Regions from separate parts of the Homo sapiens genome. Here region 2 is linked to region 1. The links come from fine-mapping of genetic effects on plasma protein levels. A gene starts in region 1. The other region holds a variant in brackets. All regions are shown on one strand. Distances are between the middles of the regions.

Region 1 (9,905 bases):
GTAAAACAGCAGCAGCACTTTTTTCAGTGCTTACTAAGTACTAAAGCAATGCTTTATATGCTGTTTAATTTCTTTTCTTTTCTTTTCTTTTTTTTTTTTTGAAACACAGTCTGGCTCTGTCGCTCAGTCTGGAGTGCAGTGGCGCCATCTCAGGTCACTGCAACCTCCACCTCCGGAGTTCAAGTGAGTCCCTTGCCTCAGTTTCCTGGAGTAGCTGGGACGACAGGCACGCACCACCATCCCAGGCTAATTTTTGTATTTTTAGTAGAGACAGGGTTTCACCATGTTGGCCAAGCTGGTCTCCAACTCCTGACCTCAAGTGATCCACCCGCCTCGGCCTTCCAAAGTGCTGAGATTACAGGAGTGAGCCACTGCACCAGCTTTAATTTCATCTTTACCATGCCCTTGGGATGTAGATAGTTTTGTCCTAATTTTACAGATAAGAAAACTTTGAATTACAGAGGTCATATAATTTTCCTATAACAATAGTTGATGTCGGGGCAGAGTCATTCACACCTGGTCTGCCCCACTCCAAGCCTATCCTCTTTACTCACCACACAATATTAAAGATTTGACTGAATGTCATCACTAACTTGCTGAATGACTCAATTGAGCTGAGTTTTCAGATAATCAGTTGTACATGTAGTCACACAAAGTTATGCAAATATAAAATGTGTAAGATGAATAATAATGGTCAGGATGGAACCCGTTCTTTTCAAAAATATGATTACCCTTAGTATTTTGAAAGCAAAAAGTAGTTTCAAGCATTACTCCATTTCAGTAAGACTGCTTTGTAAAAGGTCCTAAGCTTGTTTGTGGAGTCATGATATACTATGAGAGAACAGATCCCCATGAATGGGTAGGATTTGAAAATCCTCTTGGCATCAGAAGAATGTGAAAGATTGTCCTATTTTATTCAGGGAGACCTCATTTTTATATCTAGTTGGACAGATACTAGTCAAAAGACACAGGGATTCTGTTTATACCCAGTTGAATAAGAAAAAAACCTTGCTTTGTGAACTATCACTTCCCACTGAACCAAAGAGTATATTGGATATTGCATGGTAAATTACACTGGCCACATGTGGTAGTTCCTAAGTAATTCCAGGTGTCTGACAGTTTGACCCAGCATAGGGAATGTAATTTTCAACAAGCTGGCCCTGGAAGCCAGGAGACCCTTCAGGCTACAATCTACACACTTCATTCCCAATTTCCACCTCCCCCCACCTTTGAGCTCCCCTTGCCATCATAGCCTCTGGTTCACACTGAAGCTTATGGAAGGGAGCAGGGATGCCATCACTAACTATGATTCCAACTACCACCTATTTTTCTAGCAAGGATGCTGCCAGTAAAGCAAATACTCTGGCATTTTAAAGAAGCTTAGAAATCAGGTCCCATGAACTGACAAATTGTTTCCATGCATGTCCTATTTGAGTGCTTCAATGAGGCAACTGTTTCCATGTTTGTTCCACAGTGATTGGTAACTCAGGGACACTTAATGAAACTGCTTCCTATCCATATTGACTATGGCTTTTTGAGAGCCATTAACCTTGCCAAACCTCACTCACTCTAGGTCCACCTCTAAGGGAGGTTTAAGAGCAAGTTTTGTGCTTTACGGGGAGGAATGCATTTCAGCCTGAACCACTGCCACCTCATTCCTAGCCCTTGGCCTGAGAGGAGCACCTGCATTTAACTGATTCTAAGTGCCTGGCAAACCAGAGCGGCAACTGCACTGAGCACTTCCAGACTCTGCAGTCTGTGACTTTAGTGAGTACGAAGCCTCAAGCATGCTCTTTTAGCAAAGATTAATAGCAAATACATTTCTGTGATGATTTTGCACAACTAGCTTTTGGTTCTTGATTAAAATCAAGAAGACAATAGGTATATTCAAAAAGTGATAAACTAAGTGAGGTCACCATTAAAAAGTTCTTGAAATTCTTCTGTTTATTTTTTTTCCTTCAGCTATTTTTACAATTACTTCTCCTTCTCTCACTTTGTTAAATGAGTCAACGTGCACAGAAGGTAATTTTTCCAAATCAATTTCCCGATAACTAAGAATTACTACCTGGAAATGGACTGGGGACATGCGCCTAGACTGCGCAAGTTGAAAGAGGAAGGAAAGTTGATGCCCAAGAAATAAACAGATGGAGGCAACCAAGTCAACACATCTAAGAACAGAGTTGTTGGGGGGTGGGGGATGTGGTATGAAAGAGGACCACTCATGAAAAAAAATTGCCTTCTTTATAAAATATATGAAGGGTAAAATTTGAGGTTGGGTTAGTTGGTAGAAGTAATACTGAGTTAGAATTAAATGGACCATAATGAAGTAGGTTTAGTTGGGGTCTTAAAGTTACAAATGTCATAATTAGACTAAACACTAGTGAGAAAACAACTTGTGATTGACTCCATTAAATTTAGAGCTGCAATAAAGTTTTATGGTAGGGAAAGACTGAAATGACTGTGGTTGGTGCACACACGGAAAAGGAGCATGAAATAAGGTATTAAAGACAATTTTTTTTTCAAAACATGAGAGTGGAATAAGGGGTGAGATTTAAAATAACATTACGTGAGTGTATGATAACACGCCTTAAATATAACTCCTTTCATCTGTATGCCACTTATAAAATGACTTGAAGGCATGTGGGCATGTGAAAAGAGCTCAGTAATTTCAGTCTGCCAGCTCTATGGCAAGCCACAGAAGCTAATTAACAGTGCATAGCAATGTTTCACAATTGTTTCATTCTGGAATGGAAGAACAATTTATCTCATTGAAAGGAGGGGGAAATTTAAGGTGAAGGTAATTGCTCAAACTGGATCTTGAGCAAACACATACCCCTAACATCTGTCGGTTAGAGTAAGGTTATTGAAATTATCTTGGCATTTTTAATTAGAAGAAAATGGGGCTTCAGTTTTCTGTTTCCTCCACACAATCTTAACAAGCATCTAAGACACTAAAGATACAGAAACCTGATGACTGAGATTGCCTGAGAATCAGCAAAGAAAACCCAATGATTATAAACACATTTTAAAAGAAAAAGAGCATCACTTTACAAAATGTGGCTACTTGCACATGTAAGGAGTTGAAGTGAAGGATTCCTGTGGAGTAGAAGTGTGATGGGTTTGGAATGCATGGATTGTTTTAGAAAGATCGCCTATTGGAACACAGTGCCAGAGTGCATCAGTTTGGAAGGTGATAAGGTGAGGGTTTTTTTGTTTTTGTTTTTGAAAAAAGAAGAAAGAAGAAGAAGGGTCTTTGATAGAGGAGCAGTTATGGGAGAGATTAAGTGATCCGAAGAGAAAAAAATTAGAGAGTAAAGGCTAGTAACAAGGACTCCAAGAATTGAGGAGGCTGTAGGGTAAGGGAAGGGTGGGCCGTGTCAAAACTCACCAGCTCCGTCCGCAGTAACGATGGCCTCGGGAGAGATGCACACGCCCCTGTCGTACACTGGCAGCTCCTCGCAGGCCAGGTTCTCCGGCCACGAGTGGCGGTACTTGATGAGTATGGGCTCACAGCCCTGCCGGGCCCGCTCGCACACAGACTTACAGGGCTTGATGGGCTCGTGCTGGAAGTCAATGGTGCAGATGGGCGCGTACATGGCACAGAGGAAGAAGAGCAGATCGGGGCTGCAGTGGGTGCCCAGCAGACCTTCGAACTGCTCGATGGCCAGGATGGCGTTGGCCTGAGTGCTGTGGTGCAGGTGGTTGGGCATCTTAGTCATGTTCCAGGGCAGGGACTTGCACAGGGGGATGCGGACGGGCTCACAGGCTGCAGCCCGAGCCCCGGGCACCCGGAGCAGGCAGAGAGCAGCCAGGGCAAGCAGCCCGGCCCGCAGCAGCAGCATCCCTCCCGGGCTGCCGCAGACCATGATCCCGGCAGGATGGGGCAGGGTGCAGCCGCGCAGTGGACGCCAAAAGGCCCGCTCCGCCGTCTCCGCCTCCCCCGCTGCAAGTGGACACAAGGATCTGGGAGCTTCTCCTCCCCCGGCAATCACCGCTTCCTTGGATCAAATTCCCCCAATGGGGTCCCACGAGCTTTACCGAGCTCCAGCCACCGCCCCTGCCGCCCAGGCTGCTCTTTCCCAACGTCTAAGCCTTCGGAAGCAGCAACATCTATTTATTCCTCTCCCTCTGGCAGAAGCATCAGACTTCGCAGATCAGTCAGATAAGAGGGACACGAGAGGAGGCGAGGAAGACATAAAAACAAAAGTAGAATTCAGCTGAGAGCTAGTTGGAGCTCTGGGGTGTCTCCTCCCCTAGATCACGCACACAAAAAGATGCTAAAGAAAGCATTAAATTCCCCAAAGTGAGGAGGACAGAGGGGTTGGGGGGAAGGAGGGAGGAAAAGCTCCTAATGGGAGAGAAGGGTGCAGTAAGAGTTTACAAGTCCTGTGTGGGCTAAGAGCTGCGGCCGCCGCTGCGGCTGCGACCCTGGCTGGCAGGAGGGACGCTCAGGAGGAGCCCCGCAGGGACGTCTGTGCCTCTGCCCGGGCGGCTCTGCACTTTCCTACCTCCCGCCTGAGAGGGAGCTCCGCCCCTGGGGCAGTCTCTGCCCTCCAGTGCCGGCTGCTCTTCCCGAGAATGGAGTGGGCGCCCGGGGAAGAGAAGGCCTGGGAGTCGCAGGCGGTGGGGTGCGAAGCCGTGCGAGTGCGAGACCCCAAGACAGCGCCGAGTCGAGCGCGCCCTCACACTAGGGAACCCGTCTTTGGCCCCAGAAACGAGCCCCTAGCCCCTCACTGAAGAGCCCACCCCAATTCCCTACGGAAAAGTCCCCCTAGTTCCCCACTTGGGAACCCACCCGAGACCCTCCTTCCTGGAGGTATTTCCTTTAAGCAAACTACAGCTTTTCCTCTGCAATCACTGGCTCTGCAGAAAGTCAGACCTGGTGGGGGGAAAGGCTTAAGCAATGTCACTTTGTCCAAGTAGCGGAAAACACAGACCCCTGCGAGCAACGGTGGAGCCATATCAACCCAGAGCTAGTGACTACAGAGGTCTCCATTTTCAATAACTGCGGGGGAGGAGGTGGGGGGAGGATTGCCTTTAAAAAAAAAAAAAAAGAGAGAGAGAAACAAAGAAATGCTGTTCATGACTACAAATAGGCCACCAGAAGCAAGGAAAAGGGGTTTTTTCCTTCTATTCCCGCCCCCCCCACCTAGTGGAATTAGAACTCTTGAGCTTTGCTCCTTAAGGGTTAACGTGGAAACTAACAGCTCTAATACACTTGGACTTTTTTTTTCTGATTTTGCTCACGGATAACATGGCAGATATTATTTGTTATTCTCAGCAACAATTCTGCCCGACACTTAAAAAAAAAGTGTAGGAAAACGACATCACGCAGGTAATAATGATGATTATAACAACAATCAAAACCTTTCCATCCAGATGAGTTCAATCTGGAGGAGAAAATGGAAAACAGATCCCCTCCTGGTCTGCTTCTTCCACTAATGAGCTCCCTCTTCCCCCCACCCCCGCCCCACTCTACCCTTTCAGCTTATATTGTAAATGGAATGACCTGCAGAGGCCTTCACACTATGCCCTCTCAATGGGAAATCACTGAGCAAAAGGATTGCCGAATGTCAGAAAACACAGCCTTCATTGAGAGGAGAAGGAAACAAAACCTGAAACAAAACAGGAAGTCACCTTTGCTCTGCATCACTGAAATATTTCTCTGCTTCAATTTAGCCATCTCTCACCGTCCATAACAAGCAGAGAAATATGTCCCCACTTCAGAGCACATAGTGAGATGCTCATTTTCATTCCCTAGAGTGACTTGACAGCACTTATAAAATGTCAATGCTAACTTGAGTTATGGAATTTTATATCTAAAATGATCATAAACAGCAGTTTGTGACTGCTGTAAATTTTTTTGGAAGGAAGTTTGTTCCACTTATGGTGGCGGGGGCGGGGAACACCAGATGGTAGACAGGGAGTCAGTTAGTATACAAACTTTGCCTGGTCTACAATTATCTAGTGTCATGTAAGAGAACAAATTCAAAAATTGTACAAACGAATTTAAAATGATTTATCAAGTAAAATTTAGAGGAAAAACAACTTTAAAAGACAGTCAACATTAGAACATTTTGGGACTATTTTGTATAAGAAAAATATAGCTGAGATTTTCAATAATTAGAAGAAAAAACATCAGGAGTAGATGTAGTAGATTGTTTGCTAAATACATTTTTCTGTTCATCTTAAGTCTTACAGTGTGAGAAGAAATGTGCCAATAGTTTTAAAGGTTCTACAACTATTTGAAACAAAGTCTGTTTTCCTTCCCCTGCACAAAAGTCAGCTATCTTCTTTGTCTAATAGGTCCCCTTACAACTTTAATCCAAATTTGTTTTTATAAAAGCCCAAAATAAATGTCACTGTCTTGAGGAAGCCCTTTTGAGTACCTTGTCTAGTTGTGTTCATTTTTCTGGTTAGTTACCCTTGAACAGTGTTTGTTTTTACAAATTATTCCTTTATTTATTTATTTATTTATTTTGAGATGGAGTTTTGCTCTTGTTGCCCAGGCTGGAGTGCAGTGGCACTATCTTGGCTCACTGCAACCTCCACCTCCCGGGTTCAAGAGATTCTCCTGCCTCAGCCTCCCTAGTAGACTCACAAGCTCCCCACTTGTGAGTCTCCAAAGTCTGTTATACCTCTCAAAGATATGCCTTCTTGTACCCATAGCTTTGCTCTCATTTATAAGTGAGAACATACAGTATTTCATTTTCCATTCCTGAGTTAAATCACCTAGTATAATGGCCTCCAGCTCCACCCAAACTGCTGCAAAATACATTATTTCATTCTTTCTTCTGGCTGGGTAGTATTCCGTGGTGTATATATACCACATTTTCTTTATCCACTCATCATTTGATGGACATGGACACTTAGTTTAGTTCCATATTTTTGGTTGATGGGCACTTAGTTTGGTTCTATATCTTTGCAATTGTGAATTGTGTTGCAATAAACATATGCATGCAGTTGTCCTTCTGACAAATTGATGTCTTTTCACTTGGGTAGATACCCAGTAATGGGATTGCTGTATCAAACTGTAGGTCCAGTTTCGTTCTTTGAGAAATCTTCACACTGTTTTTCATAAAGGTTGTACTAATTTACATTTCCACCAGCAGTGTATAAGCATTCCCTTTCACCACATCCACACCAACATCTATTGTTTTTGTTTTGCTGAGACGGAATCTTGCTCTGTCTCCAGCCTGGAGTGCAGCGATGTGATCTCAGCTCACTGCAACCTCCACCTCCCAGGTTCAAGTGATTCTGCTGCCTCAGCCTCCCGAGTAGCTGAGACTATAGGCACGCACCACCCTGCCCAGCTAATTTTTGTATTTTTAGTAGAGACAGGGCTCACTATGTTGGCCAGGCTGGTCTCGAACCCCTGACCTCACTCAGGTGATCCAACCACCTTGGCCTCTCAAAGTGCTGGAATTACAGGTGTGAGCCACTGAGCCCAGCCAAGTTTTGCCATATTTCCCAGGCTGGTCTCAAACTCCTGGGCTCAAATGATCTGCCCACCTTGTCTCAAATGATCTGCCCACTTACAGGTGTGAGCCCCCACCAAATTATTAATATACTAATACTCTGCTGGAAACAAAAAATCTATGGACACCAGATTCAAGGACTTCAAAGGGCTCCACACAATGCATATCCAGGTTATGATATGCATTGGTTATGATAGCCAGAGGACACCTGGCTGTCTGAGAGCTGCAGCATAGCGCCCCCTAGCACCTAGTTGGGACTATGGGTTAATTCCAGGCTCAACCACTGCTTAGGAAGTGCACCCAGACCCAGTGATGGCCAGTCAAGCTTCTTAGGATGAGTAATGATACCATGATCATTGACATTTGGTTTAACTTCCTGACAGGTAGGTGTTCCTGTGGCAATGTCAAGAAAAAGATCATGCTAGAGTATATTACTTTGATATAGCCATATTACCAAAATTCAAATTTGGCCAATTTCCCCCTCCCTGCCCCAATTTTGCAATGTCTTATTTTGTCAGTAATTTGAATATTCACATTATTTTTTCATCTGTTTAAATAAACTGTAAACCTATCCTAGGTTTGTGTTAATAAGTCTGCCCACATCTTTCCTATAAGAAAATGTGTTTGCAAAAAATAAGAAAATATTCTTACATTTTCACAAGCAGAGCTGATATGTAAAATAGTTAAAAACTGGTACAGTTGAACACCAGTGAGTCAGAATGGCTGTGGCCAGGCCCATTCTGTACTATCAGGGTATCAAGGAGCAAGGAATTAGTGTTTATTGAGTACTTGCGAGTACTTTATGTGAGGTATGTAAACCACTTTTTAAGCACATAAACTGCTCAAGGTATTAGTTCCAAAGATGAAGAAAATAAGGCTCCATAAGATGAAGTTTCCCAAAGTTCTCACAGATAAATAAGGGCCTGGCAGAGTGGGATTCGAATCCATGCTCTTTTAACAATTCCAATCATCTGTTTCATAGGCAGAAAAGAGCCAGGGAAAGGGAAATATCAGGGATCTCTGTGAGCTTGGGTCTCAGCCTGCACCCTGACCACACCAACTGTCAGATATTGGCTCTATCTTCTTAAGAATGGAAAGATGTCGGCCGGGTGTGCTGGCTCACGCCTGTAATCACATCACTTTGGGAGGGCAAGGCGGGTGGATCACGAGGTCAGGAGTTTGAGACCAGCCTGACCAACACGCTGAAACCCCGTCTCTACTAAAAAAAAAAAAAAAAAAAAAAAAAAAAAAAAAAAAATTAGCCAGGCGTGGTGGCGCATGCCTGTAATCCCAGCTACTTAGGAGGCTGAGGCAAGAGAATTGCTTGAACCTGAGAGGCGGAGGTTGTAGTGAGCAGAGATCGAGCCACTGCACTCCAGCCTGGGTGACAGAGGGACACCCGTCTCAAAAAGAAAAAAAGAATAAAAAGATGTCAAGATGTCAAGCCCAATGAGAAGCTTTGGATTTCAGATGGGGAGACCTCCTTGCTCATAGCCTCTCCCTGAGGTATTCTGCAGACCTAGTAATTCCTTGAGTTCTGCCTTAGGAAGAAGATCTTACCCTTTCCCATCTCCACGCAAACCAATAAAAGCTTCCCAACTGTTCAATGCAGCAACATTAGGGCAATGATTCTCAAACTGAATCATGCAGCGGAATCCCCTGGAAGGCTCCTGAAAACACAGGTTGCTGGGCTTCATCCAGAATTTCTGATAAGGTAGGTCTGAGAATTTGCATTTCAAATAAGTTATCAGGTGATCCTAATACTGCTGTCGAAGAACAACACTTAAAATCACTCTTTTGAACTAGATATTAAGCTCTGATTTACCCCAAGTAAATGCTTTTCATGCTATAAAGATTTCATGATTTTATCTCCTTTTATCTTTTCTCATAGGAAAATTGGAAACAAAATTGTAATAAAGCAACCTAATAGCTAAATGACTCTCTAAAGTTTGTCTAGATAACTCTACCACTCAAAGATCATAATAATAGCCCCAATGAGACTCAGCCTTACAATCAGCTGGCCCTCTGACCTTTATGTACTGTCCTAAGGGTCACAGCGTCACTCTACCTCTGTTGTAGAAGAAGAACGATAGATCCAGCTTCAAAGAAGTTCCAGAGGGAATCTTAATATCTTAGTGGTGGAATGAACCTCAACAATCTAATCCACCCACCTCTTTCACCTCTGCAACCTTCTAGCCCTCCCCTCCATACCTTAATTTGAAAAGAAGACTTGAGATAAAATCACTTACCCAAAATCATGAAGTTAATGGCACGTATGGCAGATGTACCTACCAGCAGCAATAACTCAACTTAAGCATACCCTGAGAATGACCCTATGGTCTAAAAACAATGTGTGTTCAGAGCTGCGAGGTAAGGAATTCAAAAGTGACCAATCCAGAGATTAATTCATTATTTATGAGGAACATA
Region 2 (9,054 bases), 34 kb before region 1:
CAGCTCATCTCTCCTAATCTTGAAGCTTGGAAATAAGGCTAAACAGCCAATGAGTTGCGAAGTGAGCATTTGAATCCAAGTGCCCTAACTCCAAAGCTCTACTCAAGGTATGGTGAGGGAGCCATTTTGAATGATTGAATGTCTCCAAATGTTGTCCCTAAGGAAGAAGGAGTGTGGGCAGCTGTGGTTCCAGGCATCGTGTAGGCAAGAAAACCTCAGGACAAGACTGCCTGAGCTGATGACCTGAAAGGAATCGAAATGAGCATCATGGATATTGATCAATGGATTTAAAGAATATCAGATATTTGCATCATGCCTGATCTTCTAGCAATTCTGAAAATATTCCTGTAGCTATGTGTTTGATTTAATTAGCCAAGCAATATGAGGAAAAGCAGAATAGGCAAGAATGGCCAGGAGGGAAAGAGATGAATGTGAGCAGACAGGACAATTCAGTATTTGTGGGTATAATATTTTCTGAGCATCACGGGTTTTTTTTTTTCTGTTTTTGGTTTGTTTGTTTTGTTTGTTTTTCTTATCTTAGGCCATGTTTTATTAGAAAGAGCTGGCTGGTTAGATCACTTACAAGACACCATATCTTGAATTTTCAAAGAAAGAGAAACCTTCACAGAGCAAGGGACTCATGGCAATTCCAGTAATTAATGAGAAGGAAAGAAAAGGCCAAATTTAAACATGTTTTTTTTTTTTTTTTGGCAGAAGACTTCACCTGGAGTATCATGCATCTTTTAAAGCTTTGATATATTACTTGAGTTTTAGGTCGTAGAGAAAGTTTTCCAATAGGAATTTTGTTCATATTGATCTCTCCTTTTGCCAAGTTGTCCCACAGTTCAACTCAAATTCTTCTTTTCAGTGCTAGGACAGGAATACCATCTCTGGGAAGCCATGATTCCCTCAGAATCACCAAAATAATGTAGAAATAAAGACATTAGAGTGAACTGCATCTGCTTTATTTATTGGATTTACCACCCAGTATAAACAAGAAATCCTTTGTTCCCTGTTTCATTGACTTCTTAACATCTCAGAGCTATCCTATGTTTCAGACATCACCCGACCCACCCTTGCTGAGGCCCCAGACTATCCTAAGTCCAACCCTGCAATCATAACATCAACCTCACATCGTGATGCTAAGTGTGTGGGGAGGGAGGTGGTGGCTGTTTGCAAGAGTGGCCACAGTACCACTGTGTAATGAGTGGGGTCATTCCCCTCCACATCCCTGTGGTGAGTAGAAAATTCTTTCCCGCATTTTCTTTCATTTCTGTGTCAGTTTCCTCAACAGCCCACAAATCCTTTTTTTTTTTTTTGGACAAATTTCCTTGAGCACAACCTTTCCTTCTTCATGGGACAACTCCTCAAGTTCTCAACAACCACCTAAGTAGAAACATGACAAACGTTTGCATTTCATCGGAAGAAAAACATATTTAGTTGTATTAACATGTTGAATCCCTGTCATAGTGAAAATACTTAATGAATGAAAAGCAGGGGGAATTAGGTCAGGTGGAATAGTTTTTCTAGATTATGGAGGACTCTGGTGGTGGGAAACATAGGGGGCATAATCTAAAAAGGAGAAATGGGAGTTCCCAGTGGAAGTAGTCGTTCTCGTTTTATTTGTAATAATTATCAACTTTTAATTTCAACTTTCTTCCAGGTGTTGTTGAATACAATTAACTGTTTACTTTTCTACAAATTCAAGGGAAAACAGAAACCTTGAAAAATGCTTTTCTGAGAGTCACACATTTTTAAACAACTAATGCCCCCAAAATTACTTAATTCACCTGCCTGTCTGTATGGAAATAATTCTACTGAAATTCTGATTTCATAAGGGAGGACACCTGAAGATGTGAAGTGACTGTATCTTGGATTAGAGTTGGGCCTATATTATATAGGCTTTCTAACATAGTTGGTAGACCTCAGTTTAAGAAATAATAGCTATTGTTATATTTATATTATTATTTATTATAATCCAATAATAGCAATAGCTACCACTATATGCCTGACACTATGCTTTTTCTTTTTTTACAGTGCTAGGATGCATTTACCTTTTTATCAGAAATTGCAGTGGTGGAAAACATATAATTTGGGAAATAAGATTATGAGGATCTAAGGCCCAGCTCTGCTACTTACACAACTCTGAAGTTCTAAATACTCATTTAAAAAAAAAAAATCTGTTATATGGGAATAAAACATCTACTTCAACAACTTTCAAGGAATAAGTGAGGTAACATATGCACAAGTGTTTCATATAGAGTTCCAGCCACTGTTAGATGTTATTACCCCAAACAGATAATTATGAAAGGTATGACTATACTGTTTTTGTTAATATTAATACATCTGGGTACCATACTTTTAAATTTTATAGGCTGGATTTCAGTAACACCATATTAGAAGTCTCTGCTTTATTTTTACCATCTTCTTGAATTTTTGTGTATTAAAATATGTTAAAACTCAGTGCTAAATGTCAATCTTGAAATACCTTTAGTCATTTTACTTGTTGAAATGTAACAGCAAATAATTTCTTGCAGAAGGCAATAGGTAGTGCTATTTGCTCACAGTGATTATAACTTTTGTTTTTGCCTTCTTAATGTGTAACACATGTGGAAAGACAGTTTGTCTCACCCCATCCCTGAATGCTGGGTGCAACATATGGCACTGAATCAGATTACATTGTATGTGACACAGTAAAATACATATCCATGAAAAGAGAATCCATGTTTGCTGCTATTTAAGTATTTGCTACTTTATTCAGCATGCATCTGACTTTAATTTGGCTAAGAAAATTAAAATCCTAAAGTTGAATAAAATTTTTTAAAGAAATATAAATTTTATCAATCTCAAGGTTACTGACAAGGATGCATGTATATTAAATTTTTAGTGGCTTTAAAAGTTACTATCTGCAAGAAAACCCTATAGAGAGGCATTAACGAGGTGTCTTTGTACTATGGCAACTAGAGTAGAAATGGTTTTGCAGTCTCCTGAGAAACGTGACCATCATGATAAATCACGCCATCCTCCCAAAAGAGGTCTGCACAGTTTATTAATGAAGATATTGTAGCTATCAAACTGAAAAACCAAATGTACTTTATTCATGGGCTTTATACCATTAGAAATGTTTAAACAGCTGACAGAAGCCTCATATAGGTGAGCAAAATCAAACATTGCCACTATAGATGGTAGTGGTAAAACAGTAGGTTGTAAAATGGCACCGAATGGAAGGTGGTTTAAAAAAAAAAAAAACTGCTGAATCTAAGAATCTGGCCGTGTTTTGTTTATATTAAGCATAAAGTGTGTCAAATTCCTACACAGAAACTGATCATACCCCCTTTACCCAACCCCCACCCCCCAAAAAAAACTGCAGAAGCTGGAAACATCTGCAGCTTTTATACATCAAAAGAGTTCCTTACTTAACATTGCTTACTGTGCATTGAGAGAGTTGAGGTTTGTGGATTTGAGATAACGGTTCCTTTAAACCTCTCCTGTAGTCAATTCTTGTCCTTCTTTACAGAGTTAACGTGAGAAAGCCTGAGGAAAACAGGCTGAGGCACCAGCACTACTTTCCACCCCTCTGTCCTCAGGCTCAAGTTGAGGCTTACATACCAGGAAGAGAGATTCTCAGGGGCAGTCCATCCACGGTGGCGCTTCATTACTCCCCAGTGACACCCAACTCACCTTTTAAGGGTAGGACATCAGCACCTCAAAAGAGATGTCCTTGCCATCTGAGAATATAGCAACAATGGGCAGATGGCAAGCCCTTTGGAAGTGGTCTTTTGGAAGCTCAAAAGACTATGCAGTCCTATAGGCAAAGGTGGGAATGTTTTCTTCTGGGGCTGGGGAAATTGTTGGCTTTGGAGAGTCAATCAGAAGGCAGGAATGTTCCCTTACTCTGTCACCTTTAAATATAGGGAGATAAATCTCCAAGTAAAGGGTTTATTTGGGAATATAAGAATTGGAATTGTAATTCTGGGCACACAAACCAGTGTAGCCTCTAGTTGTGTTCAAAGAACAAAGAGAAAGGCTGGGGTTTTATTGGGGAAGAGAGGAAGGTGATCTAAATGGTTTTGAATGAAAGTTCACTGGAGCCAGGCGCGTCTTGTAGGATCTAGCAAGTTCTGATTGGTGAGTGGCAGCAGCTAGGTAACTTTATCTTAAGGTTAGAGTTAGGTCTTCGTGATTTTTCTGTTGAACTGCAAAAATGGTTCCTGGAACAGGGACCTGGGTGCCTTTCCCCATGGCCTCCCGACTCCATTTTAGTTGGGTATGATATGAGTGACTCCAATTTGTAGAATGAACTTTCACACTTTTGTTGTTGTTACAGAGACAGGGTCATGCTCTATCGCCTACGCTGGAGTACAGTGGCCGCAATCATAGCTTACTGCAGCTTCAACCTCATGGGCTCTAGCCGTCTTCCTTCCTCAGCCTCCCAAGTAGTGGGGATTACAGGTGCACTCACCACACCCAGCTCACACTTTTAAAATAGAACATTTAGATAGATGATTATTTACCATTTTAGGAAACTTTTGTTCAGGAATGAATTTCATCCTTGCTTGATTATCCTTGTAGAAGGAAACATAGCACGATTTTTGCTTCATAAGCATTTTATTTTCAGCACGCCACAGCTTAGAAATTTGGTTCTACTAATAGCACACATGTAAATGGCAGAGAATGAAACTTTCAAGTAATTGGCACAGGCTCTAAGGAACTCTGCCAGAGGAAGGAAGTACAGATGCTCCGCCATTTACGATGGGGTTACATCTGGATAAACCCATTCGAAACTGAAAATATCGTAAGTTGAAATGCATTGGGTTACATCCTGATAAACCCATTGTAAGTCAACAAATTGTTAAATTGAAGCATTGTAAATTGAATCATTGTAAGCTAGGGACCATCTATAAAAGCATCATTTGTTCACCACAGCCCCTGGGATCTCACCACAGCTTGGGTAATGAGAAATGTGCAATTGGTTCAAAAGTCGAAATAACCTCTCTCCTGACAACCATAATTCATTTTACTAGACATTTTTCGCTGAGCATTAAGCAGCACAAATCCAAATGATAAAGTGCAGGCCAGTTTGCAGGCCTGTATTTTAATCCACCTTGGGTGTGAGTGCAAGGACACACATGTACACAAATACAGACACACACACAACAGAAAAAACAAAAACAAAAAAACCTGCATATTTTATCACTCTGTAATCTACAGCATTTTTATGGAGCCATGTACTTTTAAAAACTAACCCTGGTGCACGTGCATACATAATCTTTTCCTGGTCAATACGGCAATTCTGATTTATTTTAAAAGAAGAGAAAAAAAAAGACTTTCACCAATGGGTTTATTTAAAAGGAAGCAAATTAAACAAAACTATGGTGATAACAGCAGATGTCTAGTTATAATTCATTTCTCTAATGCTGATTAATATATTCATGAACAAATCAAATGTATTGCCAAAAGAAGAATGCTACCATTAACACCCCAGCGGCTACTGGTTTCAGTTGTGCTTCTCAATCAGGCAAAATGTTCTTTCTTAAGCTCCTATTTATTTTACTTCCTGACAGTCTCAAAAATAATTCATCTTGGGTGTTGTTTCCTCATAAACACTTCCTGGTGCTTGATTGCTTTGCCTATGTGACATTTGACTTCAAACTGCCATTTTACCTTTATAAACATTTGGAACTTTCTAAGCATGAGGAGAATGCCCAAAAGGCATACAAAAATAAGGCTGTAATTAGATCGGCAGAGTATGTTTTAAGGCATATCTAGCTTTCTGTGAATACCAGAAACCTCTCTTTTCATCCAATATTGCATTCCCAATTGGGGTGCAGAAAGTAAATTAACATCTGGAGACTCCAGCAAAGAGGCTCTGGTAACAGCATGTTTAATTTATTATTATTGCAAAAGAACAGTTTTTCTCATGATTAGTGAAATAGAAAACTCACAATATACTTAAGAGTCTGCCCCCAAACCATTACAAAGGGGTTGAGAGAAGAGAGAAGCAGAAACCAAAAGAGAAACAGAAGTAATAATCAGTTATCACATGATTTTTATAGTAAACAATAGAATATGATGTGCAATAGTGCAATTTTCCTTTGCTAGTCCAGCAATGCAAGTAAGTCTTAATAGGAAGTCCACTGTGTTACTTTTTGTATTTCGGGATTTAGTTGCGTGCTTGCCGGGGGTTCGAGTTCCTGCCAGACTTCTGACTCTGAGTGGAATCACTATTGCTAGAATCACTTTTACTGAGTCCAAGATGACGAAGCTTC[A/G]TATCCCAGCGCTGTGAAATTTAAAATAGAAAATAGTCACAAGCACATATCACCAGGGTCATTATTTCCATGATTCTAACAACTGGGTCAGACTGCAAGTTCAGATCTCTGAAGCATTTTGCTACTTTTCCAAAAGTATCAATCTATTTCCCAGGGTAACAAGAAAACTGATGCAATATGAACATTATTCTCTGACTTTAACAAGCGCAACATCTATAATGTATTTAGTAATGCTTTCTTATCAAACCTTAAACTTAAAATGTCCATGTCTATAAATGATGACAGAAATATCTCCCTATATCTCTGGGTATTTCCTGAGGTAACATACAGGAGGCTAGTGCTTCACAGATACTCAACAAATGGAAGATTTACACACAGAATTTGAAGGGAAGGCTATTTTTCAACATCCTCTCTTAATACACATAAGAACATAGCCTTTTAAAGTCTATGTGATTTGAGCAGTGAAAAAAAAATGGAAATTTTTTTGAGGGATGGGGGGGTCTCAAAAATATTTTTCTAAGTAATATCCACTAAGTACAATGAATAAAACAGACAAGGTCCTGCCCTCGTTCTAAGTGTTACAAAGCAGGTATTAGCAATGTTTTTAATAAACACAATCAAGTTTAGTAATATTTCATATTAACAATGTCAATAATATTTTCATGTAATTTAAGTTAAATGGAAGTTATATTACATGAGGATAGGTAGGGAATACGAACTACAGCTGTACTTCCCAAACTTCAAACACGGATATCATATGGGGAATTTGTTAAAATTGCAAATTCTCATTTAGCAGGTCTGAGACAGGGCCGAAGATTTTCATTACTAACAAGCTCCCAGGTGATACCTATGTTGCTGATCCAGGGACCACACTTTAAAGAGCAAGCACCATCAGATCCTTGGGTCAGATGGCCCAAGTTCAAATTCTAACTCCACCACTTACTGTGTGAAGTTTCTTGAACTTACTAGACCTCATTTTCATCATGTATATGTTGGAACTGATAATAGAATCTACTTATAAGTAGATACATCTGAAGATTAATAAAAATATAAAGTGCTTAGCACATAGTAAATGTGTTATTGTTTTTCTGTTACTGAAGGTAATTCTTCATTTCAGTATTCTTTACTCCACAATCTTGTCTTCATATTTTAAAAACAGTCTGATTCTCAACTTCCCAAGGAAGTCCAAACATCTTGAATCGTCTGCTATAAGAGACTTAGGTAAACAACCATTTGCATGAAAAAAACATAATAATGTTTCTTATAAAATTATTGATTCATCCACTGAGAGCAAAACTCAGCTAAGAGCAAATCTGATTGAAAAAATAACATCCTCCATAAAACTCTTTTTACACATCTTCAAATTGACTGGAAAACTAAAATAGGAATCTCAATAATTCTGGCCAAAGGAGATTTTCTACCCAAACTCTTTAGCCCTCAATATCTGCATATGAATTTAAAATTGTTCAAATTATTGGTTTCTTTCCTTTAGAATATTTAAATCCAGACTGAGAATATAAATGACTTTACAATAATAACTCTGCAAGTCCCCTGCGGAAAACAATGGGAAATATTGCAGAAAGCAATGGGAAACAGGACAAACAAGCCATGTGTCCTGTCAACAACACAATGATATTGTTTTGGTACCAAAAGAGGAGCAGTAAGCCTTGTTACATGCTTCGCAGCAGGGATATTGAAAGCTTTTCCAACTGGTACAGGAATTTAGGACAAATTCCAGTTCTGCATTAGCAAGCAGAAAACCAAATTAAAGACAGTAAGAGATTCCAACATACTGAACAAGAGCCACTTTTTTCTTTAATAAACACCAAACTAATTGAAGAGAGATGCAGAGAGAATGCCCGCAAGTCTGAACTTGAAATGCATCTCCCTTTTGACAAATCTACTAAAGGGGAGAAGAACTTACTGGAGGGTAGTTTCTCCTTACAAAATAATGCCCTCTACATTTTTGTAGGTCACTTAAACCCAAACGTGTCTGCCGTGTCAAGTGCCAGATGTATAAGATAAACCGCCCAGGGGTGTTTAACTTACCATGTAAATGTTTCCCAAGCCTTCAAACTTGCAGAAGGAAGAGGATGTATTATGTTTGGTACAGTTCCCACTCCCCCCACCCACCCACACATCCTTTGAGATTTTTTTGTCCCCCCATGCATTCCCCCACCCCATTCTTTTCTTTAAAACAGATTTGCTTAGTGCAGTAAGAAGAAACAAAACCTTCTATAATACAGTACTGTACTATGTGATTTTAAAAAATGTATCAATTCCACAATCTAAGAGTTATTTGGCTTAAAAATAAGGCTACATTACTGCTCTAAGGACCTAATTTATTCAGATCTCTTCTATACAGATGAATGTAGCTACACTTTGTACATAGGAATTGCTGTTTATTCATCGGACATCATTGTTTATTTTCCTTCCCATCATTTATTCTCCCCTTCTCACAAACTGCAGTTTGTTCAAAGAAGCAATATCCCCAGGTTTAAAAAGACTACATTTTCTAGCCTGTTTTGCAGCTAAGTAAAAACTGCTTGATGAGGCTCTTGGAAATCCCTTTTACCTCCTCTTTTTCCTGCCTGAAATGTACATGTGATACTAGAGGCAGAGCAGCCATCTTGTGACCTCCAGGTGAACATGAGTATGAAAGCGATGCCTTTAAAAATGGTAGAGTGATAAGCTAGAAGGAGCCTGACAACATGAAACCACCCTACCAGGACTGGACTACAGCTAGACTCCTTGTGAAGAGACATTAGGGCAACTGTAGTTAGAT

Which allele goes with the higher level. Positions count from the first base shown, and alleles are read on the strand shown. Strength reflects both the effect of a copy and how common the allele is.
For the plasma level of the protein whose gene starts at base 3,951 in region 1, allele A in region 2 goes with a lower level than allele G (weak association).

What was found. PIP is the chance, under the fine-mapping model, that this variant and not a neighbour inherited with it causes the effect. Protein levels are from antibody-based Olink assays in UK Biobank. Linkage for the fine-mapping came from a reference panel and not from the study's own genotypes, which makes the PIPs less certain.
Region 2: its variant is fine-mapped to the plasma level of the FRZB protein (UK Biobank, PIP above 0.99). The variant lies in the coding sequence of FRZB. If it changes the protein, the assay may bind it differently, which can mimic a change of level.

The regions. Positions count from the first base shown.
Region 1 is chr2:182,862,687-182,872,591 of GRCh38, forward strand. It overlaps FRZB (frizzled related protein), which reads right to left and starts at 3,951. Exons shown (of 6, transcript NM_001463.4): 1 at 3,389-3,951. The coding sequence starts at 3,866. RefSeq lists an enhancer at 3,114-4,082.
Region 2 is chr2:182,828,686-182,837,739 of GRCh38, forward strand. It overlaps FRZB (frizzled related protein), which reads right to left. Exons shown (of 6, transcript NM_001463.4): 6 at 4,590-6,280. The coding sequence ends at 6,164. Among named protein-coding and RNA genes, the nearest start is that of FRZB, 33 kb to the right of the region's middle. The variant A/G (reference allele first, on the strand shown) is at 6,270.